7 linked regions of the Homo sapiens genome follow. The protein of the gene in region 1 purifies or fractionates together with the protein of each later gene. This does not show direct contact. Each region holds a gene or a part of one and is shown in the gene's direction. Other genes may lie near its edges.

The links.
Region 2: the proteins of RNF123 (region 1) and FRS2 purify together in Homo sapiens (affinity purification with mass spectrometry, with the first as the bait; one large-scale study listed by BioGRID). This does not show direct contact.
Region 3: the proteins of RNF123 (region 1) and CDK5R2 purify together in Homo sapiens (affinity purification with mass spectrometry, with the first as the bait; one large-scale study listed by BioGRID). This does not show direct contact.
Region 4: the proteins of RNF123 (region 1) and ZNF582 purify together in Homo sapiens (affinity purification with mass spectrometry, with the first as the bait; one large-scale study listed by BioGRID). This does not show direct contact.
Region 5: the proteins of RNF123 (region 1) and EDAR purify together in Homo sapiens (affinity purification with mass spectrometry, with the first as the bait; one large-scale study listed by BioGRID). This does not show direct contact.
Region 6: the proteins of RNF123 (region 1) and KDM4D purify together in Homo sapiens (affinity purification with mass spectrometry, with the first as the bait; one large-scale study listed by BioGRID). This does not show direct contact.
Region 7: the proteins of RNF123 (region 1) and MCM3AP purify together in Homo sapiens (affinity purification with mass spectrometry, with the first as the bait; one large-scale study listed by BioGRID). This does not show direct contact.

The regions. Positions count from the first base shown.
Region 1 is NC_000003.12:49,692,283-49,696,503, forward strand, and holds part of RNF123 (E3 ubiquitin-protein ligase RNF123), read left to right. Parts: intron 1-4,221. UniProt on the Homo sapiens protein: Catalytic subunit of the KPC complex that acts as E3 ubiquitin-protein ligase. Promotes the ubiquitination and proteasome-mediated degradation of CDKN1B which is the cyclin-dependent kinase inhibitor at the G0-G1 transition of the cell cycle.
Region 2 is NC_000012.12:69,472,899-69,477,119, forward strand, and holds part of FRS2 (fibroblast growth factor receptor substrate 2), read left to right. Parts: exon of another isoform or gene 1-1,310; intron 1,311-4,221. UniProt on the Homo sapiens protein: Adapter protein that links activated FGR and NGF receptors to downstream signaling pathways.
Region 3 is NC_000002.12:218,958,207-218,963,009, forward strand, and holds CDK5R2 (cyclin-dependent kinase 5 activator 2), read left to right. Parts: upstream 1-1,459; 5' UTR 1,460-1,614; coding exon 1,615-2,718; 3' UTR 2,719-3,949; downstream 3,950-4,803. UniProt on the Homo sapiens protein: Activator of CDK5/TPKII.
Region 4 is NC_000019.10:56,383,070-56,387,290, reverse strand, and holds part of ZNF582 (zinc finger protein 582), read left to right. Parts: intron 1-2,106; coding exon 2,107-3,428; 3' UTR 3,429-4,221. UniProt on the Homo sapiens protein: May be involved in transcriptional regulation.
Region 5 is NC_000002.12:108,912,446-108,916,666, reverse strand, and holds part of EDAR (tumor necrosis factor receptor superfamily member EDAR precursor), read left to right. Parts: intron 1-3,902; coding exon 3,903-3,989; intron 3,990-4,221. UniProt on the Homo sapiens protein: Receptor for EDA isoform A1, but not for EDA isoform A2. Mediates the activation of NF-kappa-B and JNK. May promote caspase-independent cell death.
Region 6 is NC_000011.10:94,993,800-94,998,020, forward strand, and holds part of KDM4D (lysine-specific demethylase 4D), read left to right. Parts: intron 1-3,224; 5' UTR 3,225-3,573; coding exon 3,574-4,221. UniProt on the Homo sapiens protein: Histone demethylase that specifically demethylates 'Lys-9' of histone H3, thereby playing a central role in histone code. Does not demethylate histone H3 'Lys-4', H3 'Lys-27', H3 'Lys-36' nor H4 'Lys-20'.
Region 7 is NC_000021.9:46,278,745-46,282,965, reverse strand, and holds part of MCM3AP (germinal-center associated nuclear protein), read left to right. Parts: intron 1-2,390; coding exon 2,391-2,469; intron 2,470-2,828; coding exon 2,829-2,973; intron 2,974-4,221.

The DNA.
Region 1 (4,221 bases):
TTTTAACATGACTATTCAAATGTGATTCTTTTCTGTTTCTTTCTTTGTGTTACATTTTTAATTTTTAATTTTTGTGGGTATGTAGTAGGTATATATATTTATAGGGTACATGAGATACTTTGATACAGGCATGCAATGCGTAATAATCACATCATGGTAAATGGGGTATCCATCCCCTCAAGCATTTATCTTTTGTCTTATAAACAATCTAGTTATACTCTTTTAGTTATTTTTAAATGTACAATTATTATTTACTATAGTCACTCTGTTCTGCTACCAGATAGGTCTCATTAATTCAATTTTTTTGTACGCATTAGCCATCCCCATCTCCCCACAAGCCCTATACTACCCTTCCAAGCCTCTGGTAACCATCCAGTACTTTGCCTCTATGAGTTCAATTGTTTTAATTTTTAGCTGTCACAAATAAGTGATAACATGCAATGTTTGTCTTTTTCTGCCTGGCTTATTTCATTTAACATAATGACCTCCAGTTCCATCCATGTTGTTGCATATTACAGGATCTCATTCTTTTTTATGGCCGAATAGTACTCCGTTGTGTATATGTACCATGTTTTCTTTATTTATTCATCTGTTGATGGACACTTAGATTGCTTCCAAATCTTGGCTATTGTGAACAGTGCTGCAACAAACATGGGAATGCAGATATCTCTTTGATATACTGATTTCCCTTCTTTCAGGTATATACCCAGCAGTGGGGTTGCTGGATCATATGGTAGCTCAATTTTTAGTTTAGTTTTTTTTTTTTTGAAAAATTTTTTTTTTTGAGACGGAGTCTTGCTCTGTTGCCCAGGCTGGAGTGCAGGGGCACAATCTCAGCTCACTGCAAGCTCCGCCTCCCAGGTTCATGCCATTCTTCTGCCTCAGCCTCCCAAGTAGCTGGGACTGCAGGTGCCCGCCACCATGCCCAGCTAATTTTTTGCATTTTTAGTAGAGACGGGGTTTCACCGTGTTAGCCAGGATGGTCTTGATCTCCTGAGCTCGTGATCCGCCCACCTCGGCCTCCCAAAGTGCTGGGATTACAGGCGTGAGCCAGTGTGCCTGGCCTTTTTTTTTTTTTTTTTTTTTTTTTTGAGATGGAGTTTTGCTCTTGTTGCCCAGCCTGGAGTGCAGTGGCATGATCTTGGCTCACTGCAACCTCTGCCTCCCAAGTTCTAGTAATTCTCCTGCCTCAGCCTCCCGAGTAGCTGGGATTACAGGCACAAACCACCACACCCAGTTAATTTTGGTATTTTTAGTAGAGATGGGGTTTCGCCATGTTGGCCAGGCTGGTCTCGAACTCCTAGCCTCAGGTGATCCTCCCACCTCGACGTCCCAAAGTGCTGAGATTACAGGCATGAGCCACCGCACCTGACCAATTTTTAGTTTTTTGAGGAACCTCCAAACTGTTCTCGATAGTGATTGCACTATTATAATTTACATTCCCACTAACAGCATACAGGGGTTCCACAACCTCGCCAGCATTTGTTATTGCCTGTCTTTTGGATAAAAGCCATTTTAGCTGGTGTGAGATGATATCTCGTAGTTTTGATTTGCATTTCTCTGATGACCAGTGACGTTGAATGCCTTTCCATATGCCTGTTTACCATTCGTATGTCTTCTTTTGAGAAATGTCTGTTCGTATCTTTTGCCCATCTTTTGATGGAATTATTAGTTTTTTTCCTATAGAGTTGTTTGCGTTCTTTGTATATTCTGGTTATTAATCCCTTGTCAGATGGGTAGTTTACAAATATTTTCTCCCATTTGTGGGCTGTCTCTTCACTTTGTTGATCGTTTACTTTGCTATGCAGAAGCTTTTTAACTTCATGTCTGTTTATCTTATAATGTATGTAGTTCAGATTATGCTGTATAGAAAACTTTAAAAAAATTTATCACCTTCAGTTCTTTTCTTAAAACGTTTTTATTGAGCTATGATTAATATACAATAAACTACACATACTTAAAGTGTACAATTTGATAAGTGTTAACATATATATAAAACCCGTGAAACCATCACTACCATCAAGGTAATGGACATGTCCCTCACTTCCAAAAGTCTATAGAAGTTTGCATCCTATTTTTATCATCAAATGTTATCCCGTGAGTATTTTTCCCCATTATCAATTTATCTTACTGAGCATCTTTAGGGCCAGGGGGTCTGCTGTGGCCCATACCAGTGCCCTAGTTTGGAAGGACTTTTGCTTTTGTAAACAATGCTGTGAGGATGCCCAGGGCTGGAGTCGTGTGGCTAGAGTGTTTGAACTGCAGTCACTTTTAAGACTGTTGCCAGATTACTTCTTCAAAGGATCAAGTAGGTTCTCCCTCCCTGCAGTGAGGCACGGTTGTCCCTGTCTCTCACCCCCTCATCAGCCTTAGCTGTTCTGTCTTTTACGACTTCTGCCCTTTAGGCAGGTCCAAAAGGCAGCAACGTTACCTGTTCTATTTAAGCAACTGTGGTGGTCAGAAAGTGCCTGCTTGCAGAGAGTTCCTGCCCACCCCCACCCCATACTCAGTCCTGGCCTGTTCTCAGAGCCATCTGATCCCTACCTCATGTGATACCAGAGATGGTCCTACTGCTGCTGCTGCTGCTGTGGCCGCCAGGAGAGACAGCAGGTGGTAGGGCTGTCAGTCAGTGGTTGTGGGTATTCAGGGCCCTGAACTGGGACCTAGGAGATCCAAAAAGGTCAGGGAAGTTGCTGGTCTTGGCCAAATGGGCAGTGCTGTAGGCACTCAGTGGTGGCTGTCTCAGGCCGACTGCCCACAGATATGTGCAGTCTGCTCTCAGGATCAGGCACACGACTTTTGGGGTCAGGTACAAGAGTAGCTGCTCCAAGTGTGGGCTTGTTAAGAACTGTTTTCTTTTGAGACAGGGTCTCGCTATGTCACAGTCATAGCTCACTGCAACCTCAAAGTCCCAGGCTCAAGGAATCCTCCCACCTCAGCCTCCCACATAGCTGGGACCACAAGCACATGCCACAGCACCCAGCTAATTTTTTTTTTTTAAGAGACAGGGTCTTACTGTGTCACCCAGGCTGGTCTCAAACCCCTGGGCTCAAGTGATTCTCCCACCTCAGCCTCCCAAAGTGCTGAGACTACAGGTGTGAGCCACCATGCTTGGCCTGTAACTGCTTTTGAGGAAGGCTCCTTTATCCTTGGGCCCACTGGGGTATTCAGAGATGGGGTTGGCTTTAGCCTTCTATGCTACTAGCTGAGCACCCCGACTGCATAGCCACCACCTGGCCTTGGCCTGGGACAGAGCAGCAGTGGGGAGGGGCCTTTGTGCATCTCTGCTCCTACAGCTCAGGGCTGGGAGTGGCTTACACTGGGGAATATGTGATCCCTGAGCCTGGGTAGTGGCTACTTTGTCAGGGTGCTTGTCCAACCTTTGTCCCCTTCCAGAGCTTTCTGTCTGTGTGGATGAGTGGGGTAAGAACTGGCATTAAAGGTGGAAGAGCAGGTGGTGGCACCCTGTGGGCAGCCAGGTGTGTAATGGGCCTCTGTTCTGCCTGAGTCCTGCTGGTTACCACCACCTCACTCCCTGCTATTCTTAGCAGCTGAGCTCAGGACAGCACTGACTGGCATTAGACAGTACCCTTTTCCCTCTAGGCCTGTGTGTTGAGAGGATGAGGGGGCCACCCAGACAGATTTTTCCCAACTCCTTTGGCTCGGGTAGGTGGGTCATGTGCTCCGCTGACCATTTATGGACTGGCGGGTACAGGACAGAGCCATCCAGCAGCTCAGAGGGCTGAGCCTTTCATACTTCCAGAACATGTCCCATTCAACACAGACTCCCCTGGCTGGGTGGTGGCGAGACTGGAATCTGCCCCAAAGGAACCACAGGCCTAGGGGCAAGGGTTGGACTAGGTGGCCTTGGTACTGACCACTTTGGGAACCAGCATTTCTCCCAGCCTTCTTCTTCCAGACATCATCAGCACAGCCACCTTTGAGAGCGGACAGGTTATGTGCTATGCAGACAGCACTTGTTATTCCCTGGGCTCTTCACAGCATCTCTAACATAAGTCACTATTCTGTTTTTACAGATGAAGGAATTAAGACTTAGAGAGGGCTACTTTTTTTTTTTTTTTTTGAGACAGAGTCTTGCTCTGTCACCCAGACTAGAGTGCAGTGGCACGATCATGGCTCACTGCAACCTCCGCCTCCCAGGTTCAAGCAATTCTCCTGCCTCCGCCTCCCAAGTAGCTGGTATTACAGGCACATGCCACC
Region 2 (4,221 bases), on another chromosome or scaffold:
GGCATTTTAGGATATAAAGATTAAACTTTTGGTTTTTAGGAATTTGAAATCTAGAAGGGGATATAAGATTTGTGTAAACATTTACAACATAAACATTTGTAAATACTTATGGGTGGTTTGAGGTAAAGTTTGGAGTAAATTATACAAAAGAAGAAAGGGTTCATTTTTAGCTTAAGTAATGGAAATTTGTGGAGATAGCTCAGAAGCTACTGTTTATTGAGCATTTACTGAACAGACTTAATGCTAGTTGCTGTTTACAGCATTTTCTTAGCTTCACAGCAATATGTAAGTACCTTAATAATGAGGACAGTGAGGCTCAAATATGTTAAGTTACTTGCCTGGGCTATGTGGCTAGCATGTAACAGCCCCAATTTGAATCCAAATCTGTCTGGTGCCAAAGCCTGTGTGTTTCTACTGCATCATGTTGCTCCCCAATAAACTGGTAACCTGAGTTTAATGTTACAGAGAATAAGACTTTTCTAAGACAAAGATTTATGGATTGGGAGTAGGTGGGTGAAGAAGGCCTTTCAAATAAAGAGAATGATGTGAGCAGAAGTGTGGAGGTGGGAAAGTTCATTGTGTACTTGGAGAAAAGTTAGTGGACCAGATTACCTGGAATATACTGTTCATTTTTGGGAATTAGAGATGAGGTTTGAATTTTAAGTGGGGGCAGGATTGTGGAGCATGTTTAAGTGCTGCTTTTAGAAGTTTGACATTTGGGGAAAAAAAGTTCGACGTTTGGGAGGTAATGAGAAGTTACCAAGGTCTAATAGAGTAGTGTGCAGAATGATTTGATGTGGAAAGCTGACTTTCAATGTAGTATAAATACTGGGCAAGGGCAGTGGTAATGGAATTAGAGTGAAGGCTCTGCAGGACCTCAATGTCGTAGGTGGGTGGCGAGGAGGAGGGGTTTTTGGAGCAGGTTTGGAGGAGATGGAAGGTGAAGATTACACTTTTGTTTTTGAGACAGAGTCTAGCTTTGTTGCCAGGCTGGAGTGCGGTGGCGTGATCTTGGCTCACTGCAACCTCCGCCTCCTGGGTTCAAGTGATTGTCCTGCTTCATCTTCCCGAATAGCTGGGACTACAGGTGCTCACCACCACGCCCAGCTAACTTTTGTATTTTTAGTAGAGACGGGGTTTCACCATGTTGACCAGGATGGTCTCGATCTCTTGACCTCGTGATCCGCCTGCCTCAGCCTCCCAAAGTGCTGGGATTACAGGTGTGAGCCACTGCGCCCAGCTGAAGATTACACTTTTTAAGTGTCGGAGATGTTGACGGTGGTACTCTTACTAGAAATACGGGCAAGGAGGTACGTAATGAGATCAGTTTTGGATTTGTTGACTTTTTTGTATACTTGCCAAACGCTGGAAATGTCCAAAGGCTTTTGGAAATGTGGATTTGTGGTTAAGGGGAGAGGTCAGGACTAGGCATATATTAAACATGGGTTTAGTGAATAATACAAATAGGTGTACTGGTTGAATCTGTGTAAGAAGATGAAAGTGCCAAGGGAGAATGTAGAGGGGAAAGAAAAAAAAAACTTCTGTTTTAAATGGCATCTGTTTAAAACAGAAGGAAATATGCTAAGTGATTTATTTTATGCAGTGGGTAAAGAATTTGATAGTATGTCCACTGCTTCTTCACACTGTAGGTTCACACGGAGTAGAAAGAATCTGATCATTAAAAATCCAATTGGGAAATACAGTTTTCTTGCCCTGGGTAGCAAGAATACTATGCTATCTTTACCCTGTTTCAGGGAGGACAAACTACTTCAGACTCATTTCATCCAGAGTGTCAGATTTGGTTACTTAAAAGCTATGTTAGCTTGTTTCTTTTGGACATTTGTTTGGCAAGTGGTATGTGAGGAGTTGGAAGCAAATCTCTGATACAGTATTTCACTTATTTATGTGTATGACATCGATTTTGGTTTCAAAATCAAGAACCTCTGAATATTCAAAGATAATATTTACATCTCATTAAGGCTGTTAATATTGCTTTTTATAGAAAATGGCATTTGATTACATATTTTTCTTCCAACTCTATTTTATAAGTTCTTTTGATTAACATGATTAGTTTTGGCTTATAATGTTTGGATTATATTAGAGGGATAGAATAAGATACTTTTATCCATTATATGATAACACATATGAAAGTTACATATTTTATTTTGGAAACTGTTTAAGAACTGTAAATTTATAGAATTTTGTGTGGTTTTCTGTTTAGGTATTTAAATAGGGGGAACTTGAGTATTAATGTGTAAAAGATTATAATAGTTTGCAGAATGAGGCTTAGAGTTGTAACTTTTTGAGGGCAAGTTTATTATTTTTAGACTGAGTTACCATGGAAGTGTTTATTTCCTTCTTGAGAATTAATACATTCCTTTTGTTTTTCAGGAATATGTTTTCCACTATATCACAGGCACTTGGGAATGTCGAAAGAGTCCTGTGTCAGTGTTGTTGGAGGCAGGGGGTTTTGTGTGTGCTTTGTCTGGGCTGTTTGGCTTAGTTTCAGTAAGCCTGGTATTAATGAGGCAAAGGTCAGGAGTTCCATTTAGCTTCAGTCTAAATGATGGCCAGGGAGTACACCCCTCACTCCCTCCAGCTGTCTTGGAAATTCCTTGGTTGTCATTGGTCACAAAGGTGACTAGATGAGGGTGGATTGTTATACCACTGGAAGAATATTAGAGGAAACTTAGGATAATGGCTGGGACCTCTGACTCTAGAATTAGATAGACCCGTGTCAAAATCCTTGGTATTCAACCTTGGGAGAGTCCCTAAACTTCTCTAAGCTTACATTTCCTCATTATTGAATAGGTTAATATTTGGTTTGGGCATTACGTATCATCACTTTCCTTTTCTCAGTGGGAGCTAGCCACTTAAGCTTGTGGCTCCCGAAGTGCTGGACTGTGGAGTAGTGTCAGTTCATGACAGAGTTTTCCTTTGAGTGAAAGGAGAATGTAGTTGGCTTCTTTAAAGCTAAATCTATTGATATGTTTTTCTAAAATTATCTTTTGCCATTTTCGATGGGCGCTTAGTTCTTTTATGAAATAGTGGTGATGGGTAATCGGTAGTTTTTGTTTTTGTTTTTTAAATGTCCTTGGCAGAATAAAAGTTGGCAGCCCTATGCTGGTCACCCTCTCCTTCCTCGTGCCCCTTTTTAAAGATTATGGTTCTGTGAAATCCGAAAATCTTGGCTTAAACAGAATCTGAGGGATTGGAGGAGACTATTCATCCACATATTTATGCATATTAAAGAAGGTTTGGGGTACATTCTGCCCTTGTGTTAGCCTACAGAGGACGTATTGTGATTCTCGCCACCATTGAATTTAATTTTGTCAAGATTCACAGTCAATACTTATAACATATTTCAAGGAGCAGTTCAGACTGTTTTCAGTTGAGTTCACACAAGTAGCTCTAAATTACTTGTTTAAGACTGTGTTTCTCAACCAGAGCCTCTGGAGAAAACTGTTGAACTGTGGGCGCTGCCTGGGGGTGCTGCTTTAAGTTATTACTCTGTTGATTAGCCAACAAGATAAATAACTCGCCTTTGACATAGTGAAGCAGCAGAAATTGGCTTTCCATTTCACTTCTTCTGCAGGAAAGATAGAGCAAGAAAAGCCTTTTTATTAATACAGCAAGTAAACCTTGTACAAATATCAGTATTCAAAATGCTTTCTAGAGAAAGAATAGTGCAGCACTGTGCGTAATGGGTTATGTAAGTGGAGTCACAGAAGTCCTCCTGGGGACACAAACCAATTATGAACATAAGTGCTTATTGAAATTGCATCAGTTGTCTAGATGAGGAGCTTATTGACTCCCTGGTTCACTTGGGTGGGCAGGCGGCTGTGGGGGAGGGACGGGGGGGGGTGTGGGGGTGGGGAACTTAAGGTGCAAACCTAGCCTAGGTGACTGTTAAATTAAGGCTTAACATTTGTTTCTTTTGAGTGTTTTTGGTTGCGTAATTTTAAAAGTTGGGAATGCTATAGAAATATTTAAATTCTATTAGAATGTCCAAGGCAAAATGTTCAGGTTAAGTAGAAATAGCTTGGACCCTCTGTTAATTTTAAAGAAAACTGTGGGTTTGCTGCTTTAGATATTAAAATGATATGGGTTTATAGAGTTATGTTGTGTATCATTGTTGCTGGTAAATAAAAAATGTTTAATTCATTTATTTTAACAGTGCTTAAATTTTTCTCTTAAAGTACTCCCAATGGCAGAAATGTG
Region 3 (4,803 bases), on another chromosome or scaffold:
AGCTGGAACTGCAGCCCAAGTGGATTCTAGAACAGCCTATCTGCAGTGACACACACACACACATATATGCACAAACCAACCCTGACAGCAGTGGATCCTTGGAGCTATGTTTGCGGTCTGTGAGGAGCATGGAGGTGACTCCAAGGGCAATCCTTAGAATTTACTGAAATACATAGGCAGGGGTTTGGCTCCACATGGAACCCATATGCACCTACAAGGTCCACTTACTTAAGAAGCCTGAAGGCTCTTGTGCTGGGGGAGCCACAGAGAGCAGGCTCCAAGAAGGGTGGACATGATCTAACAAGGCAGATAGAATAGGTCCAGAACTAGCTGTGCTCAAGACCTGCAGGTAAGGCCTGGGGAGTCCAAAATCCAGGGCAAAGGGCTGATGGGTACTCAGGAGGTAACAGACAGACCCAGAGAGAAGTGGACAGGACCCAGCCTAACAGCTTGCTCCTGGGAGTGGGGACAGCTGGAACCTTACCTGCAGGAAGCATTTAATGATGAAACCCACCTCAACCTGGACCCAGGGCTGGGCTGGAGGTTGGTCCAACCCTCTTGGGCTTCCGTCCACACAGGAGGCTCCGTTCACTATCCAAGACTGGGTAGACCAAGTGATCCAATTTCTAGCGTTTCCCCAGGGACCAACCTTATCCATCATCCACCCAAGTATGAGATCTGTGTGTGTTAGTGGGGACAACCAACCGAGAGGAGCTGCCCAGGGACCAGAGCCAAGGGTCTGCCCCACAGGCTCAGTTGCAGAGAATCAGGACGGCAAGCAGAAGCCTCAGGGGCATATTTGAGACCTTGCTGCTCCCCCTCTCCCCCTCAAGCTGGAACCCCCAAGAAGGCGGGTTGTGACCTGCAAGAAGGCTCTGCCAGGACTCCCAAACAGGCAGGGCAGAAATGTGCCTGCTGCAGCCCCCCTAGCGACCTGGGGGGTGGGGGGCGAGGTGGGGTCGCGAAGAGGAAACAGACCTGACAGTCACATTGGAGGAGCCAGTGCAACGCGACCCATCTGGGACCTGGGCATCCGGTGAGGGCACTCACTGCTCACACTGGCCCCCCACACAAATTCAAAGGCAGAGGGAAGGAGAGCTGTTCCCATGGTTTATCTGCTACCGCGACCCAGTGCATCAGAACAAGCTGGTCCAGGCCCTAGGATCCGGAGGAGGCAGGAGCAGCCACCACCCCTTCTCAACTCTGACCCTGAGGAGGCCACTCGAACGACGACCACCGCCTTCCCCTTCCTCCGCTCGGGGGAAGGGAAAAGACTCAGGGCGGAGGGTGGGGATTGGGGCGGGACTTGAAATTGAAGTGCGAGAGTCTATTGGTCATTGGAGCTGCCCATCAGGAGTGCAACTCGGGAGCGGATTGGCCGCGTGAGGCGGGGCACGGCGCGACGAAAAAAGGGGCCCAAGGGGTGGGGCTGACGCTGCAGCTGGCGCAGCTCAGGATTAGAGCAGCGGAGCCGCCTAGCAGCCACCTTCCCCCGCCAGTCCGCGCGCCCGGGCCGGGGCTAGGCCCCCCACCGCCGGGTCCCCCGGGGCTGCAGTAGCAGCGGCGCCGCCCGCGGCTCCCGCTGGGGCCTGGGCGCCGGCCCCGCTCTGCAGGATGGGCACAGTGCTGTCTCTTTCGCCTGCCTCCTCGGCCAAGGGCCGGAGGCCCGGCGGGCTGCCCGAGGAGAAGAAGAAGGCGCCGCCCGCGGGGGACGAGGCGCTGGGGGGCTACGGGGCGCCGCCAGTGGGCAAGGGCGGCAAAGGCGAGAGCCGACTCAAGCGGCCGTCCGTGCTCATCTCGGCGCTCACCTGGAAGCGCCTGGTGGCCGCGTCCGCCAAGAAGAAGAAAGGCAGCAAGAAGGTGACACCCAAGCCGGCATCCACGGGCCCCGACCCCCTGGTCCAGCAACGCAACCGCGAGAACCTTCTCCGCAAGGGCCGGGATCCCCCCGACGGCGGCGGCACCGCCAAGCCCCTGGCGGTGCCAGTGCCCACCGTGCCCGCGGCTGCCGCCACCTGCGAGCCACCGTCGGGGGGCAGCGCGGCCGCTCAGCCGCCGGGCTCGGGCGGGGGAAAGCCTCCGCCGCCGCCTCCCCCAGCCCCGCAGGTGGCGCCGCCGGTGCCTGGCGGCTCGCCGCGGCGGGTCATCGTGCAGGCGTCCACCGGCGAGCTGCTGCGCTGTCTGGGCGACTTCGTGTGCCGACGCTGCTATCGCCTCAAGGAGCTGAGCCCGGGCGAGCTGGTGGGCTGGTTCCGCGGTGTGGACCGCTCGCTGCTGCTGCAGGGCTGGCAAGACCAGGCCTTCATTACGCCTGCAAACCTGGTGTTCGTGTACCTGCTGTGCCGCGAGTCGCTGCGTGGGGACGAGCTGGCGTCGGCCGCCGAGCTGCAGGCCGCCTTCCTCACCTGCCTCTACCTCGCCTACTCCTACATGGGCAACGAGATCTCCTACCCACTCAAGCCCTTCCTCGTGGAGCCCGACAAGGAGCGCTTCTGGCAGCGCTGCCTGCGCCTCATCCAGCGGCTCAGCCCGCAGATGCTGCGGCTCAACGCCGACCCCCACTTCTTCACGCAGGTCTTTCAAGACCTCAAGAACGAGGGCGAGGCCGCCGCCAGCGGCGGGGGCCCACCGAGCGGGGGCGCGCCCGCCGCCTCCTCGGCCGCCAGGGACAGCTGCGCGGCCGGAACCAAGCACTGGACTATGAACCTGGACCGCTAGGGATACCCAGGGGCCGCGCCCATCCCCCGCCCCAGCCCCTGACACACACTCGGACCCCCCGGGACCACAAAGCCACCGCCGCTGTTACCGCCGCTCAGCGCCCCGGCTGGGCGGAGGAGGAGACGCCCATGCCCCTCAGGGGAAAGTGGAGACCGGGACACCAGAGGCCGCGGTGTTTGGATTTGCTGGGCGTGGAGTGGGGACGGAAGATGAGCGCGGGAAAGGCACTCCAACCTCACTCTTCCCGTCTGTCTGCGCCCCCATTTCTCCATTTCTGCCGGGGTCTCCCCCTTCCCTTCAGCCCATTCCCCCTCGGTTTTATCCATTTCCTTGCCTCCTTTTTGTGTCTTCATTTTTCCTCCTGTCTGCATTCCTCTCTCTCTCTCTCCCTCTCTCTCCTGTTCCTCTCTTTCTTCCTCCCTCTCCCTGCCTTTCCATTTTCCGTTCCTTGGGTTTGTGTGTCTGCATCTCCATCTTACCCCTTGCCTGACTGTACCCCGTAGACCCCTGTTTCTCCTCCTGCACCTGTGTCCCCATCTGCCCTTCTTGTTGCTCCTGTCATGTGTCACCATCTTCCCTCCTGTCTGCCTTCTTCCTCCACTTGTGTCAGCTTGCATTTTTTTATTCCTGACTGAGTCACCACACCCCTCTCCCCTGATCAAAGGGAATATTAGTTTTTAATTTGGATCGACTGAGGTGCCAGGAGAAACTGCAGTCCCAGGTATCCAGACAGCCACCAGGATGGTCCCTCGCCCCACCCCCACCGCCTCTCCCCACCTTTTCCAACGTGTTGCATGCTGGGAGCTGGGGGGTGTGGGGGAAGGGGCTGCCGGCTTCTTTCAGGAGGCTGAGGTTTGGAGGCAAAATCAACCTGGGAGACCACCCCGGCCGCGGCGCCTCAGTGGACAGGTGGGAGGAAAAGAAAACTTCTTACCTTGGAGGAGGGACATCCCGCTTCCTTATCCTTAGCTTTTTTGTTGCTCCTCCCCACTGCCCCTTTTAATTTATTTGGTTGTTTGCGGAGGGAGGGGGGAGGGGGGTAGGCTGGGCCGGGAACTGTCCGAGGTGCTGAGCTGGGGCGGGACCGGAATCCTCCCGGTAGGGTACCAGGGACTGAGTTGGGCCTGGGGCCGTGTCCAAGGTGCCAATGATGCGGGCCGACAGAGCGGGCCGCACTGTCTGTCTGTCCGTCTGTCCCGGAAAGAACTATAAAGCGCTGGAAGCGCCTGCAGATGGTTTTGCGCCGGTCTTTCTTTGGGCCCCGGGAGGGAGGGAGTGGGAGTGGTAATGGAACTGTCACAGACAGAGCAGAAAGGCAAGAGATGGGGCTCTAGTAGGGGAGATCAAGTACCTGAGAACTTCTCCTCCTCCCCATCCCCACCCCCGCCATCGGCTTCCATTTTACAGAGAGTAAAGAGTAAAGCGAGGCAGCTGAGGGTGAGGCCTGGTGATAAAGCTGAATCCATCCCCCCACTTCCGCCTCCATCTTGTCTGACCTAGCTCCTCATTAATGCCCGGGCCACTTAGAGACCGAATCATGGGGACAGCGGAGTTGTGCCCTTTCTGTGATGAGACCCATTGAGGCAGAACTAGCTAGTCCTTATTGCTATTTTTCCCTTCCTCCCCATCTCTCCCCACCATATATCGGTCAAGAGTACAGTCGGGCCTAAGTCTGTGTTCACCACTCCCAAGTGGGGCCTGTCTGCCATACTTCTCTCCTCATCCCCCAACCACCATGGGGCTGCTTCGACGATGCCCAGGTCGCACGCCCACTCAGGAGTCTTGGGGGGTCCATCCCTGCTTGAGACTCAGACCCTTGCCCTTTATCCCCAAGAAGGGGCAAACAAGGGCAGTTGGGGAGAAGGAAGCCATTCTCTGGGATTGAAACAGGAAGGAAAATGCGCTATTTAGCCTGAGATCCCTGCTCGGTCCCCATTGCCTTCTTAGCCACGTGGCTAAGCGCCCTGTTCACTGTTTCATTGGCCCAAAGAGGCCTGGCTTCAACAGAGTGCCCGCGGCTCCGACCCTAGTCTGGCCGTGGCCGAGAAGATCCGGAAAGAACCCGGGGGGACCTGCCAAGACGAG
Region 4 (4,221 bases), on another chromosome or scaffold:
CCCAGACAAATGTTAGGAATACTGGTTCTGTTGAATAAATGACCAATGTTTTTATAGAAATACGTAACATAGAATTCCCTCCTGCTCTTTCACCCTCAATAAATGCTATAAAGTGCATTCACAAAGAGCCATATTAAGATAAAGCTACTGCACAAAATACAGCACTCATATATACTGAAATGAGTAGTATCACACTGGAGTTTAATTGTGCACATTTTATATACCAGTATAGCAACATCCTTAGCCAGAAGTCTCAACAGAATTATCATGAACATAAACGTTTAAGGGTTATATACATATATCAATTTAAAGTATGAAAAGGTGCATTTGAACTTCATGGCAACATTTAAAAATGATATCCTTGTTAGCACATCACCTTGAATCTATGATGTATGATTCAGCAAATTAGGACAGAATCAAATTCTCAGCAAAAAGTACTTTGAGGCTGGGGATGGTGGCTCACGCCTGTAATCCCAGCACTTTGGGAGGCCAAGGCAGGCGGATTGCTTGAGCCCAGGAGTTTGAGACCAGCCTGGGCAATATGGCGAAACCCCATCTTTACAAAAAAGCACAAAAATTAGCTGAGCATGGTGGTGCCCACCTGTAGTCAAGCTATATCTGAGTCTCTTTAAGTCAACTGGGGTTGGTTGCTATAAGTACAGTAAAACCTGCCACTGTAGCTGAAATAATGTACCAGGTAGAATCACAGTCCATTATAGCATTCAGCTTTTTCATGCAGTTTGAATAATCAGCAAAGTATGTTGCTCTAGAAGGACCCACCCTCAATCAACTGGCCTAATCCTCTAAACAAGGAAAAAAGCCCTTCTTTTTCCAAGGTCACCTTTAAGAAATGAAAAGGTTCAGGTAAATGCATGACATTTAAGAAATTTAAGAAATGTCATTCAGTTGATAATGGGCTTCAGCCATGGCGTTCAACTAAACTTCAGATATAAAAAACACCATGGTGTTCAGCTAAACTTCAGATATAAAAAGCTTCACAGAGGAAGACAGCAGCCATGTCATTCTAACTTCTAGCGGACACATGAGAATAGCTGCCACTGTACCAGCATATTCCTCTGGTTCATTCTCCTGCATGTCCTCCAGGCACTGAGGCAGGTTGCAGATCCAACCACACACTTCCAACACCACTTTTATTTTTATTTTTTAAAACTGTGGTAAAATACAAGATTTACCGTGCTCACCATTTTCAAGTGTACAGTTCAGTAGTGTTAAGTACATTCACACTGTTGTACAACCATCATCACCGTCCATCTCCGGAACTCTTTTCATCTTGAAATCCCCATCATCTTTTTAAAATTCACTCTTTTGGGGGCATAATTTATGGTCAATAAAATGCATTTTTAAAATGTGCTATTAATGAGTGTTGACAAATTTATACACCCACATAACCATCACCTCAATCAAGATAGCGAACATTTCCATCAACCCAAAAAGTTCCCTTGTGCTCCCTCCTGCACAGTCCGTCAAACCAATGATTTGCTTTGGTTTCTGTCACTCTATATTTGTCTTTTCTAGAGTCTCACAGAAACATTTACTGTCTTAAAAAATATTGTTCAATAGTGATTCTGACCCACACCAACTCTTTTTTTTTTTTTTTTAAAGTCTCCCTCTGTCACCCAAGTTGGAGTGCATTGGCGTGATCATAGCTCTCTACAGCCTCTAACTCCTGGGCTTAAGCAGTCTTCTTTTCTCAGCTGGGACTACAGGCATGTGCCACTGCAGCTGGCTAATTTTTAAAAATTATTTTGTAGACATGGGGTCTTGCTGTGTTGCTGAAGCTGGTCTCAAACTCCTGGCCTCAAGTGATTCTCCCTTCTTGGCTTCCCAAAGCACTGGGATTACAGGCATGAGCCACCATGCCCAGCCCCACACTAACATTTTAGAATCACTTTTATAACCTCTCTTATTGCCTCCCTCATCTCATGTATGTTATTTTCCTTTCACTGTTCTACTTGTCCATTTTATAATTGCTTAGCTACATTCAAGAGTTAATAGGCATTGAGTCTAAACCCTCCAGTTCTTATTTTAGTTCCTTTATCTGGAAAAAAAAAGAAGCCAAACATATTCGCTTTTTTTCATTCTTAGTATTGGAGTCCAGATATGATACCAAGGAATTATTTCCAAAGCAGCATGTTTATGAAGTCGAATCACCCCAATGGGAGATAATGGAAAGCCTTACAAGTTATGGTCTTGAGTGTTCAAGTTTCCAAGATGATTGGGAATGCAGAAACCAGTTTGACAGACAACAGGGAAATCCAGACAGACATTTCCATCAGATGATCATCAGACATGAAGAAATGCCCACTTTTGACCAGCATGCATCCCTTACTTTTTATCAGAAAATTCATACTAGAGAAAAACCTTTTGGGTATAATAAATGTAGAAAAGACTTCTGGCAAAAGGAACTCCTTATTAATCATCAAGGAATTTATACTAATGAGAAACCCTATAAATGTAAGGAATGTGGGAAGGCCTTTAAATATGGCTCACGACTAATTCAACATGAGAATATTCATTCTGGTAAGAAACCATATGAATGTAAGGAATGTGGAAAGGCCTTCAATTCTGGTTCAAATTTTATACAACATCAGAGAGTTCATACTGGTGAGAAACCGTATGAATGTAAAGATTGTGAGAAGGCCTTTAGTCGAAGCTCACAGTTGATTGAACATCAGCGAACTCACACAGGCGAGAAACCCTATCAGTGTAAGGAATGTGGCAAGGCCTTCAATCGGATCTCACATCTTAAAGTACATTATAGAATTCATACTGGTGAAAAACCCTATGCATGCAAGGAATGTGGGAAAACCTTTAGTCATCGTTCTCAGTTGATTCAACATCAGACTGTTCATACTGGCAGGAAACTCTATGAATGTAAGGAATGTGGGAAGGCTTTTAATCAAGGCTCAACTCTTATACGACATCAGAGAATTCATACCGGTGAGAAACCCTATGAGTGCAAAGTATGTGGAAAGGCCTTTAGAGTGAGCTCACAACTCAAGCAACATCAGAGAATTCACACTGGAGAGAAACCCTACCAATGTAAGGTATGTGGTAGGGCCTTCAAACGGGTCTCACATCTTACTGTACATTACAGAATTCATACAGGTGAAAAGCCATATGAATGTAAGGAATGTGGGAAGGCTTTTAGTCATTGCTCACAATTGATTCATCATCAGGTTATTCACACTGAGAAAAAGCCCTATGAATATAAGGAATGTGAGAAGACCTTGAGTCATGATTCAACTACCGTTCAACCTCAGAGAATGCATAATAGAGAAACACATGTGAATATAATAAATGTAGAAAAGCCTTCCATCAGCAGTTACCCCTTACTAATCATCAGAGAATTTATGTTGGCAAGCAACCATATGAATGGAAGTAATGGGGAAAGCCCATTAGCCTAGGCTAATTGTGACTGTGACTTACTTCTCCCTCTTGGAGAAAGACTTGAAGAATGTAATGCCAGTGACAATGCCTTCATTCAGAGGTAAGCCTTTATCCTAAGTCTGAAAATTCATATCAAAGAAAATTTTATGGATGTAAATTGTTCAGATCATAATTGTCAAAAATGCTGGGAAAGGTTGGGAGAAATTTTATTTCTAACACATTCCAGAACCACATTTTCTAACCACAGTGTAGTAATTTTATCAAGAGCAAAAGTTATAGTTTTCTTACAAGTTAAAAAAACAGCCAGATTATCATTTGCTTAACAAAGAAATCATGCAATTACCATAAATGGTAATGAAAAGAATGAATTGAGAGTTTAACATGCCAAGAGATGTGAAATGTGGCCAAAGAGATGTGAGGGTAAGGGGAAAGCCAAAGCTACACTGGAGGAATTTTTATAGCCTTTGAATGCATGCATATACATGAAAATCTGAAAGATAAACTCATATGCACTAAACATGCTATTCAAGTCTACCAAACATCCAGGCAGTGAAAGAAGAAAGTAACAGAAAATGATGAAATAAAGAGACCATCTTACAATAATCTCAGTTTTTGTTTCTTTCTGATCCAGAAATAATCTAAATTTAGGAGAATATTTCTTAATTTCCACATTGTTACATTGTTTTATGTGACTGGCACAGACAACCATTGGTTGTCATCCCAGCAGCCATACCCAATTCCCCTTGTTATTGGCAGCATCTGTGTCTTGCCTTGGACTCTGAGAATATCAGATGCTAATTTTCCAGTCTC
Region 5 (4,221 bases), on another chromosome or scaffold:
CAACTCAGGGATCCCTGCACACCAGGGAGCACCCAGCCTACACCTGCAGCCTGGCACAGTTGGGGACCGTTTAGTTGGTGCCAGCTGGAGGTGTTTGGAGGGAACCATCCGGTGATCAGGATAGAGGCACAGCTGGCCGAGGGCAGGTGGGCGCCTGTGGGTGCAGGAAGATGTCACATCTGCAGGCATTGTTTGGGGACGTCATTGTGTAACCAGCCCTGCAGGGCTGCAGAGGCATCCCACAAGTCTGTGTGCTCTCTAGGCTGCGTTTATTGCCCCACTCTAGACCACAGGCCTGGGCATATTTGTGTCCCCATCCCCAACCCTGTCACCTGAAGCAGCCTGCGAGCCCCGACAGGAAGGGACAAGAAGAGGCGAAGATGACAAACATTCACAGACAGCCCACGGCTGTTCTTTTGCTCTGACAGTGTATCTTAAGCTCCCTTGAGCGCCTTACTGAACAGATAGATCAGCTTCTTTTCAATCTCTTGTTTGCTCTTATAAAGGAAATTAGGTCATGCTGGAAACTATGCCATGATGCCCCTATGCTCACTCACCTGATGAAGTGTGGGAGGCTACCCCCCAGCAAACAGAAATGGGCACACAATCTGAAGCCTCCTTATCACACTGGAGACTTCCAGAGCAACTTCAGTAAGGTCTGTGAGGGGGAACGCTCTGTTGTTTGACATGGGCTTGTGGCTTTCAGCTAGGGGCACGCACTTCTCCACCAGCTCTTTTTTTATTTTTATTTATTTTTTATTTTTTTTTTGAGATGGAGTTTCGCTCTTGTTGCCCAGCATGGAGTGCAATGGCGTGGTCTCGACTCACTGCAACCTCCGCCTCCCGGGTTCCAGCGATTCTCTTGCCTCAGCCTCCCCAGTAGCTGGGATTACAGGCACCTGCCACCAGGCCCAGCTAATTTTTGTACTTTTAGTAGAGTTGGGGTTTCACCATGTTGGCCAGGGTGGTCTCAAACTCCTCTTAGGTGATCCTCCCGCCTCGGCCTCCCAAAGTGCTGGGATTATAGGCATGAGCCACCGTGCCTGGGCAGCTCTTTCCCTAATAAGAACACTGGTTCTGAGGCCAAGTAAGAGGCTAAATTAAGAAAGCAAAGATTTATCATAAGTTTGAGGCCCACGAGGAAAAAAGCCTCCATTCATCATCCAGAAACACAAGGAAACATCATTTGCCCCTCAGTGGACAGGTGATGTTTCTTACATACCCTATGACATAGCTGCCCTGGTCCCTCCCAAGCCCAATGTTTCATTGGCCAAGCTTCCAATTTGCTTTACAAGGTGTGAGGACAGAGAAGCATCCAGCCCATTCTCCTGTGGCCCTGCTCCATTTAGAGCAGACACGAGTGGATAGCTCAGCTGGTCACTAGCTCCTGGGCTGCCCCCACTCACAGAACAAGAGTGTGCGTTTCTCCTGAGAACTTCCTACTAAAGAAAACAGCCAGCCCAGGCATGGATTACAGGCTCACACCTGTAATCCCAGCACTTTGGGAGGCCAAGGCAGGTGGATCACTTGAGGTCAGGAGTTCAAGACCAGCCTGGCCAACGTGCATTTTTCTCTATAAAAAATACAAAAAGTAGGTGTGGTGGCACACACCTGTACTCCCAGCATCTCAGGAGGCTGAGGTGGGAGGATCACTTGAGCCCAGGAGGCAGAGGTTGCAGTGAGCCAAGATCGTGCCACTGCACTCCAGCCTGGGTGACAGAGTGAGACCTTGTCTCAAACAAAACAGAAAAACAGTCCAACTAGGAAGCTTGCTTCTCCCGGAAGCCTTGCTGCATGGGCTGACCAGGCACAGTGCTGGGCCATTCCACTGGGCTGGGCCAGGCTGGGGAGGTACCTTGATTTGGGGATGGCAGCTGGCCTTGTCCTTGACTCAGGGGCTGCTTTTCTGTAGACCAAGTGCACTTCACGGATTTCTCCAGAACTGGTAGAGACAAAAGTGAGAGAGTGGGAGATGCATTTGAAGCATGTTGGCTTTATTATTTGCAAAACTGAAGTCTGGCCCAAAAGAAGGTTGATCTTCTTTTAGGAGGTCTGGAACAGGACGTGGTCTCTTCTGTGGTGGAATGTTTTTGTTTTGGCTGAATGGTTGCGTCTTAGTGATTTGACTGAGAGCAAAATCAGCTTCCATTTTATCCCCGCTAAGTCACACTTTTTCCATAGAAGGGGAGTTGTGGGAAGCATAGCTTTAAGGGAAGGCAAAGCACACCTTGCTCTGAAACTCTTTGGTCACAACCATGTAAAAACATGTCTGAGGAAAAATCCTAGGCAGAAATACAGCAAAAGTCCACTTAGCCAAGGAGGCCATGGGTAGTTCTTTTCCTCCTTTCTTGTGTTCTTATTTTTCCAGATTTTTATTTTTATTTTATTTTTATTTTATTTTTTTTTGAGACAAAGTTTCACGTTTGTTGCCCAGGCTAGAGTGCAGTGGTGTGATCTCGGCTCACTGCAACCTCCACCTCCCGGGTTCAAGCGATTCTCCTACCTCAGCCTCCTAAGTAGCTGGGATTACAGGCATGCGCCATCATGCCTGGCTAATTTTTTGTATTCAGTAGAGATGCGGTTTCACCAGGTTGGCCAGGCTAGTCTTGAACTCCTGACCTCAAGTGATCCACCCACCTTGGCCTCCCAAAGTGCTGGGATTATAGGCATGAGCTACCGCGCCCGGCCCCTTTTCTAGATTTTTTTTTTTTTTTTTTGAGACGGAATCGCACTGTGTCACCCAGGCTGGAGTGCAGTGGCGCAATCTCAGCTCACTGCAAGCTCCGCCTCCTGGGTTCACGCCATTCTCCTGCCTCAGCCTCCCGAGTAGCTGGGACTACAGGCGCCTGCCACCACGCCCGGCTAATTTTTTGTATTTTTAGTAGAGACGGGGTTTCCCTGTGTTAGCCAGGATGATCTTGATCTCCTGACCTCGTGATCCGCCACCTCTTGTCCTTCTAACAAGAAGAACTCATACCCATACTACGTAAAGATAGCTATCGCATACACTTTTATCACCAGCCTCCTTCCCACAACAATATTTATATGTATAAATCAAGAAGCTATTATTTCAAACTGATGCTGAACAACAATCCCAAAGTGCTGGGATTACAGGCGTGAGCCACCATGCCTGGCCCCCTTTTCCAGATTTTTAATAGTGAGCATATATTACTTTTATGACTGGAAAAAGTATTAACACATTCCTACTCTATGTAATTGAAGGAATTAGTCAAGTATTGTATCACCCTAATAGTACTTTCATGTACACACTCTATGTTGCTTATTTTTATGGATTTCATATACTTTGTCTCCACGCATAGGAAAATTGAGTTGGTGAGGCTTGCAAAACTCCCCAACCCACACTGTTTAGTTTTAGCAGACTTATCACATGAGTGTTTTCATTTAAAGAACAATAACCAGCCGGGCGCGGTGGCTCATGCCTGTAATCCCAGCACTTTGGGAGGCCGAGGCGGGCAGATCACAAGGTCAGGAGATCGAGCCCATCCTGGCTAACATGGTGAAACCCCGTCTCTACTAAAAATACAAAAAAATTAGCCAGGTGTGGTGGTGGGTGCCTGTAGTCCCAGTTACTTGGGAGGCTGAGACAGGAGAATGGCGTCAACCAGGGAGGCAGAGCTTGCAGTGAGCCGAGATCACGCCACTGCACTGTAGCCTGGGCAACAGAGCAAGACTCCGTCTCACCAAAAAAAAAAAAAAAGAACAATAACGATGACTCTTTAGGGTTCATTAAACAGTCTAAGAAATACAAATATTTAGCTCCCCTCAGCCATCACTGCCTCAGGCCCATTCATGATCATGAATCCAGATCCATGAGCTCTGTGGCAGCGTCTTTGAAGGTGGAGCTTCTCTGGATCATTTGAGGGACTCTATTTTCCTTGCAGGTGTGGGAGCCACTTCAGGAGCTTCTGCCAACTTCCCTGGCACCTCGGGCAGCAGCACCCTGTCTCCCTTCCAGCACGCCCACAAAGGTGAGGAGGGTGCTCAGGTATCGATCACCTGGAGTTAGGTGGTACTCGGATGAAAGCTCAGAAGAGGAGAGGAAATGATCATGAGTGATGATTATGGTGCGCTTCCCCACCTGGCCTCACCTCCCTAATGTAATTGAATGACATGTTGCCCCCCGTGCAGGAAGTCATTATATCTGCAATCAGAGTTGATCCCTCTATGGGTGTCCTGGGACCGCTGGGAGGTGCTGGTGGT
Region 6 (4,221 bases), on another chromosome or scaffold:
GATATTTAATTATCCTTCTAAATTGTCTCACTTTTCTCTTTTCTTTTCTTTAGAGCAAGTTTTCTAATAGAAAGAATGAAATATTTTATTTTATATTCCAAAAATATAAAGAATTTATAATAAAATCATTGTAGAATAATTTTTAAGATTAAAAAATTGGGATGAGATTGGGAGACTATCATATGATACAGGTAATCTTGTCACTTGTACATCCTCAGTGTCTCGCTTGAGTAGTGACAGCTTTAAGTAGGAGAGGAAGACAAGCTGGATTCTTGGGTTCTTCTATAAGGAAGATAAAGAGAACACACCCTGGGGTGTCTAGATGTCCTTGGGGCCTCATGGAAGACTATCATTGGATCCTCTGACAGGCACTGACCATATGTCTGGGAAAAGGGAGATGTAATAGTCAGTGGTGACTACGATAACACATTATTGCCCTTGATAGAAATAAAAGACATATAAAGGAGTAACTTAGTTTCAGGAGAAAGATCATCAATTTGTATTAAACCAGTTGACTTTCAGGGGCTCACTGGGCCATCTAAGTTGGAGAAGGAGAGCAGAAGCTTAGGAGAGAGTCAGTTATTGGAGAAAGTTATGACAATAAATAACATGTTTAAAGGGAAACAGCATGGTACTAACAGAAACCCTGAATATAAATAGGAAATTTTAAGAGAGAAAGAAAGTTAAGAGGGATAAAAATTGAACTTTGAGATGTCTGCATGTGTGTGGTAGAAGAGGAGGTAGAACCCAGAAGAAAGAAAAGAACCAGTGTTAAAAGAAGTATCAGTGCCCTGGAGGTTGTAGGAGTTTTAGGAGGAAGGGGGAGGTGTTCTGTGAACCAGTGATGTTCTGTGAACCAGATGTTCACAGAACCACTGGTTCTGTGAATCAGTGAAGTGTAACCCCTGGAGCAGAATTTGGGAGGCAGTTTGATGATTTATGGAGAACAATGTCAGTAGAAAGGTGGGGGCAGGACCTGGGGTTGGGTGGGAGAGAGAGAGAGAGGAGCCTGAGAGGAGGGAGAGAGGGAGTAAGGACAGTAGCTTAAATTAGGAAAGAGATTGATGACTGATGATTTAATAAAGAGAAAAATAACTGATTATTTAATTCAACATAGTCCTGGACCAAGTGGGAAATGTTGATTTAAGGAGTTCAAATGGAGAAATTAGCCCTAGAAAGCAGTGTTTTCTCCTGAGAGGACGGAGAACAGTGAGAAACATGGGGTGTAATCAATAGGTGACAGAGGGAAGTGTGTGCCAACTCATTTAATTAATAAAAATGTTTTGGGTGCCTACAATATATAAGAAAACCAATATTCTTGGAAAACACAATAGTGAACAAGACACAGATTATGTTCTCAATACTTTTATATGGAAGATAAGTCAAGGATAGACATAATTGTAGAGACTGAAAACACAAGCTATTGAGTTAGTTATAAATTTCTCTATACCTTGGTTTCTTCCTTCATAAAATTGGGATAATGATAGTACCAACTTCATAGATTAGTTGTGAGTTTTGAATAGGATACTATAAAGTGCTTAATAAGGGGTCTGTCTAAATGAAGTGCTAAATAAAAGTGACACTGTTCACATTATATAAGGTAGAAGTGATAAGTGGCAAGAGAACTACAGGATATGAAAGAAGATGTGCTGTTTTGTTGGGACAGTAAAGGAAGATGAACAGTCAAGTTCATCTACTTGGGAAGGAGTGGAACTTAAGAACTGACGAAGAAGGGAAAGTTTGGGAGAGAGAATGTGGGAGGGGAGAAACAGTTTGAAGTTGAATAATAGCATAAAGTCAAAACTCAGGAAGATGTCAAGACATCAGTAAAATAGGCACTCAGTTAAAAACTGCCCCTAGTTTAAAAAATCTGTTTCGAGCATCCCAATCTTTTTTGAGCTTCCCTTTCCTAGTGTCCTAACAGGACTATTTGACTAAATAGAGAAATCTAGCCCACGAACCTCCCTCAAGTTCTTATTTCCTTTTTTATCCAGGATAGATATAATGGTTCATTCTCCATTCAACCCATCAACAACCTTATCCCTTTCTCACTGAGGTATACTTGCCTGGAAAAATCCTAACCCTGATGGAACCTTACTATCTGCTTTCTTCATCTCTTTTGAATGGCCCTTCTCTATGGGGAAAATTCCTGTCATGCTAGATTGGTCCATGTAGGGCTGATACCAGTTGTGCGAGGGATAGGGGACACATACTGCAAAGTCACACGGTATGAGTTAAGGAAACACATCATCTTTATTCTTTGTTAGTTCCGTACCTTTCCTCTTTCTTTCCCTTAACTCTAATTTGCCTTTATCACTTGAATGTATAGTTTATTTTCAGTCGTTCTTTCTTTTCCTTTTAATACAATGAAATATGCCTCTTAGTTGTCTTTAACGCTTTTCCTCCTAAACCCTATTTTTAAATGAACATACAGAAATTTGTGAAAATCATCATACCTTGATGAGTTAACACAATGAGTTATTCTGATGGGTATGAAACCAGCACCCAGGTTCTGAACAGATTAACTTTACTCAAGAGATCCCCTCAAGCCCCCCTACACAACAACCCCTCTTTTCCCAAGGTAGCCACTACTCTGACTTCAAACATAGATTACTACACTTGATCTTAGCCAAAAGGCCAAGAAGCAATTCAAACATAGATTACTTTGCCTCCTTTTCATCTTTATATAAATGCAATTGTGTAATAGGTATTCTTCTGAGTCTTGATAATGTTACTCAATATTGATCTTTATAAAACTGCATTTTCATGTGGCTTTGGTTTATCTTCATTGCTATATGGTATTCTGTTGTGTGAATATACTGCAGTGTACTTATTCATTCTATTGCTGATGGACATTTGGGTTGTTTAAGTGTTTGGCTACCAGAAACAATGTTGTTATGAACATTACTGGATGTGACTTTCAGCTCACAACCATACACATTTCCTAGGCATGTGGAACAGTTGGATCACAGAACATATGTATGTTCAGTTTTAGAAGAAACTGTCCAAATAGTTTTCCAAAGTGATTATAGTGCTTCATATTCTCTGTAGTAGGGTATGAAAATTCCCACTGTTCCACATCCACACCTCCACTTGAATTATCAATCTTATAAAATTTTAGCCTCTCTTTGTAATATTATTATTCTATTCTGGTATTTAATTTCTGGATGCCTAATATTTTTTCCAAATATCAATTTTTAATCTCTGTGTATTCTTTCTTTTAGATTTTGTTCTAAACACTGAGGACATTCTCTGCTACATTTGGGTCGTACCCCCAGGTCTGAGTAATTCAATAGACTTAAGAAGACAGAGCCCAGCAGCAACCGAAACATAACAGAGTTGCAGGATCAGCTAACGTCAATGCCTGGGCAAAGCTGCTGCCCAGAGTGGAATCTCACTAGTGAATAAACAAGCCCAAGAAAGATTATCATCTCATTTGCAAAAAAAAAAGTACGCTGGTAGATCCTGCTACCTCATAGATAACACCAGTCAAATTTTTTTTTAAAGTAGCATTTTCCTACATTGTCAACTATCTAGAACATACCTAAAAACTAAGAGTTTACTGCTTATTAAATGGAAACTATGAAGTCTAAGGCCAACTGTGCCCAGAATCCAAATTGTAACATAATGATATTTCATCCAACCAAAGAAGAGTTTAATGATTTTGATAAATATATTGCTTACATGGAATCCCAAGGTGCACACAGAGCTGGCTTGGCTAAGATAATTCCACCCAAAGAATGGAAAGCCAGAGAGACCTATGATAATATCAGTGAAATCTTAATAGCCACTCCCCTCCAGCAGGTGGCCTCTGGGCGGGCAGGGGTGTTTACTCAATACCATAAAAAAAAGAAAGCCATGACTGTGGGGGAGTATCGCCATTTGGCAAACAGTAAAAAATATCAGACTCCACCACACCAGAATTTCGAAGATTTGGAGCGAAAATACTGGAAGAACCGCATCTATAATTCACCGATTTATGGTGCTGACATCAGTGGCTCCTTGTTTGATGAAAACACTAAACAATGGAATCTTGGGCACCTGGGAACAATTCAGGACCTGCTGGAAAAGGAATGTGGGGTTGTCATAGAAGGCGTCAATACACCCTACTTGTACTTTGGCATGTGGAAAACCACGTTTGCTTGGCATACAGAGGACATGGACCTTTACAGCATCAACTACCTGCACCTTGGGGAGCCCAAAACTTGGTATGTGGTGCCC
Region 7 (4,221 bases), on another chromosome or scaffold:
AGACAGAGCCAGACTCCGTCTCAAAAAAAAGAAAAAGAAAAAAAGTGAAATTCCCCTTGTCAGTCTGTCCTCTAGAGATAACTGCTTTGAAGCACTGGGTTTGTATCCTGACTTTAAATGTATGCATAATACTTTCTTTTTATTTATTTATTTATTTTTTTGAGATGGAGTCTTGCTCTGTCACCCAGGCTGGAGTGCCGTGGCATGATCTCGGCTCACTGCAAGCTCCACTTCCCGGGTTCACGCCATTCTCCTGCCTCAGCCTCCGGAGTAGCTGGAACTACAGGCGCCCGCCACCACACCCGGCTAATTTTTTTGTATTTTTAGTAGATACGGGCTTTCACTGTGTCAGCCAGGATGGTCTCGATCTCCTGACCTCACGATCTGCCTGCCTCGGCCTCCCAAAGTGCTGGGATTACAGGCGTGAGCCACTGCGCCCAGCCTAAATGTATGCATAATACTTTCTAGGGTGCAGTGAACGTGGACTGCTTATGTTATATAGCTTTATATCGTCACTATTTTTTCTGAGTATTCTCATAGACAAAATTACGTTCTATAGGAATTTATAAAGTATAAATTTATAAAGTGAATGATACTACATTGAGTGGATGGACTACGTTTTGTTGATTCGTCTGTTGGCAGACGCGGGTTGTTTCTACTTTTTGGCTATTGTGAATAATGTTCATTGGCATATGACTTATTTGAGTCCCTGCTTTCAGTTTTTTGGGGTATATTCTTAGGATTGGAATTGCTGGGTCATATGGTAATCCTAATTTGTTTTTAGTTTTAATTTTTTTAATTAAAAAAAGTTTGTATTTTTACATTTGTATAGATGGGGTCTTACTGTGTTGCTCAGGCAGGTCTCGAACTCCGGTCCTCAAGCTGTCCTCCTGCCTTAGCCTCCCAAAATGTTGGGATTACAGACCTGAGTCATTGTACCGGCTCTCATTTTTGTTGTTGTTGTTTTTGAGACGGGGCCTTGCTCTGTCTCCCAGCCTGTATTGTAGTGGCGCAATCTTGGCTCACTTCAACCTTTACCTTTCCAGTTCAAGCGATTCTCCTCCCTCAGCCTCCCAAGTAGCTGGGATTGTGTGTGCACCACCATGCCTGGCTAATTTTTGTAGTTTTAGTGGAGAGGGGGTTTCACCACGTTGGCCAGGCTGGTCTCGAACTCCTGACCTCAGTGTTCCACGCACCTTGGCCTCCCAAAGTGCTGGGATTACAGGCGTGAGCCACCATGCCTGGCCTTGTTTTTATTATTTATTACTACTATTTATTTTATTGTTATTTTATTATTTATTTATTTTTTTGAGATGAAGTTTCACTATGTGGCCCAGGCTGGTCCTAAATTCCTGGGCACAAGTGATCCTCCCACCTCCACCTCCCAAAGTGCTAGGATAACGGGCATGAGCCACCATGCCCAACCCCCTTTTGTTTTTACAGTTATTTTTTGCCTGTTGCAATGTGCTTATTTTCCCAGCTGAACCTTAAATATTTTATGACATAACTAATATGTAAATAGACTGCCTTTATAAACAATTCATTGATACAGACAAAACTGAATATCCTCATCTCTCCTGTTACTCAGGAGCAGTCCAGTTAACTAGTGTGATGTGTATTTTTTTAGACATTTTTATGAGTGTATCTACACGGAGACTAACGTGGTTGGTTTTGTGTGTGTTTTCTGTGGTAAGTGGCATCCCATGTGTGTTATTCTGCAGCTCCCTTTTGTGCTTAATTGTGACTTCGCAAACTTTCTGTCTCTGTATGTGTGATCAGCTGGTGAGAATCATCTCACCAAATGCCAACAAGGCCAAGTTTGTGAGTTCTATGAAGCAAAGTTGTTAATTAAAAAAAAGGGGCCGGGCGCGGTGGCTCACGCCTGTAATCCCAGCACTTTGGGAGGCCAAGGTGGGCGGATCACCTGAGGTCAGGAGATCAAGACCATCCTGGCTAACACGGTGAAACCCCGTCTCTACTACAAATACAAAAAATTAGCCGGATGTGGTGGCGGGCGCCTGTAGTCCCAGCTGCTCAGGAGGCTGAGGCAGGAGAATGCATGAACCCTGAAGGTGGAGATTGCAGTAAGCTGAGATCTCACCACCGCACTCCAGCCTGGCTGACAGAGCGAGACTCTGTCTCAAAAAAAAAAAGGGGGAAAGAGCAAATACATGCTTGTGAGACAGGTAAGGGAGATGAATACTGCTGCTGCCGCAGCCAGAGACCATGCAGTTAGCAGACGTGTGGGTGGAGAAATCACTGTCGTGCAAAGGACAGGAGCTCCTGGTGCCTTTGAATGGTCTGTTGTGCTTACTGCATTTGAGTTTTCAATCCCATTTCCTTTGGTTTCCTGATATACTCACACATGGCGGTTGTGGACTGTTTTCCAGGCATCTGCAGCCCTGGCTAGAAAGAAGGGGAAAAGTTTGCATAAAGACATGGCTATCTTTTGGCACAGGAAGAAAATAAGTGAGTTTTCAATTATTCTTTTCACTTTTTAAAAAAATTATTTTTATTTATTTTATAGAGATGAGATCTCGCTATGTTGCCCAGTCTGATCTTGGGATTACAGGCATGAGCCATTGTGCATGGCCCTCTTTTCAGTTTCTCATGCTCTTGGTCCAAACCCTTTGAGCGTGAGCCCTTTCCCCAGCCAGTGGAGGAGGCTGGCTCTCAGTGGATTTGCATCTCACAGTTATTTCCTTGGGCTCTTCTCTAACCTCCTGTGACAATGAAAATAATATTACTTTCTTAGAAACAGAGTGAAAAAATCCAGTTCCAGGTGATCTGTGATTGCATAAACTCTTTTCTGCCTCCTATGTCCACAGGCCCCAATAAGAAACCCTTTTCCCTGAAGGAGAAGAAACCAGGTGACGGTGAAGTCAGCCCGAGCACAGAGGATGCACCCTTTCAGCACTCTCCTCTTGGCAAGGCCGCAGGGAGGACTGGTGCTAGCAGCCTCCTGAATAAAAGGTGGGATCGGTCCCTCCTAATGACCTTATTCCGGAAGGACCAGGAAATAGCGCCCTATAGCGACACCTGAGTCAGGGTGCAAGACTGTGGGGAGTGGTGAGGAGACAAAAGCCAGTTGCTAGGGATGGTTGGGGGTGGAGGGGCAGGGGCTCTGCCCCTCCTGCCAGCATGGGCCGTTAGGAGGTGGGTCTGTGTGGGGCTGGTGGTCCCAGCCAGAAGAGAGAATTTTCTGACACTGGTAACTGCCAGCTGCAGAGATGGTGGAGAGCAGTGATTCTGTCCTGTCTTGTTCTCATATACCCTAGGGCCAAGGTTGCTGAGAAAGCCTTCCTTTGGGGCTGGCCTTTTTTTCTTGTTTCCATCTTGGCATTTTCTATGGGAGAATCTCATCACACAGTTGTTATAGCTGGTACAGACCTTTCAGCTGCAGCTACAGGAGATCCAGGGGAGGCTGCTCACTTAGGACAGCAGAACTTCTGTCCTTGCACAGAGTGCCTGCTCTGTGGGACACACGCAGGCTGGCGCCCTGTGGCGGGTCGCTGCCTGCCTCACAGGATTGTAGTAGGAAATCTCCTTGCTCATCTAACTCGTCCTGAATCCCACTGCAGTTAAGTGCAGTTCCACTTGACATATAAATGTATAAGCAATAACTTTTTACCTCAAGACATTTAACTGGCTGTAATAAACCATGCATTCCTTTTTTTTTTGAGACACAGTCTGGCTGTTGCCCAGGTTGGAGTTCAGTGGCACGATCTTGGCTCACTGCAACCTCTGCCTCCTGGGTTCAAGAAATTCTCCTGCCTTAGCCTCCCTAGTAGCTGAGATTACAGGTGCGCTCCACCACGCCCAGCTAATATTTTTGTATTTTTAGTAGAGATGGGGTTTCACCATGTTGGCCAGGCTGGTCTCGAACTCCTGACTAGAGATGCATGCCCGGCCAAACCATGCATTTCTAATAATCACTTTCAGCAGTTTCCAGCATTACTTTTTTTTTTTTTTTTTTCCTGAAGAGCTGTCTCCTGGCCGGGCGCAGTGCTCACGCCTGTAATCCCAGCACTTTGGGAGGCCAAGGCGGGCGGATCACAAGGTCAGGAGATTGAGACCATCCTGGCTGATATGGTGAAACCCCATCTCTACTAAAAATACAAAAAATTAGCCGGGCATGGTGGCAGGTGCCTGTAGTCCCAGCTACTTGTGAGGCTGAGGCAGGAGAACTGCGTGAACCCGGGAGGCGGAGCTTGCAGTGAG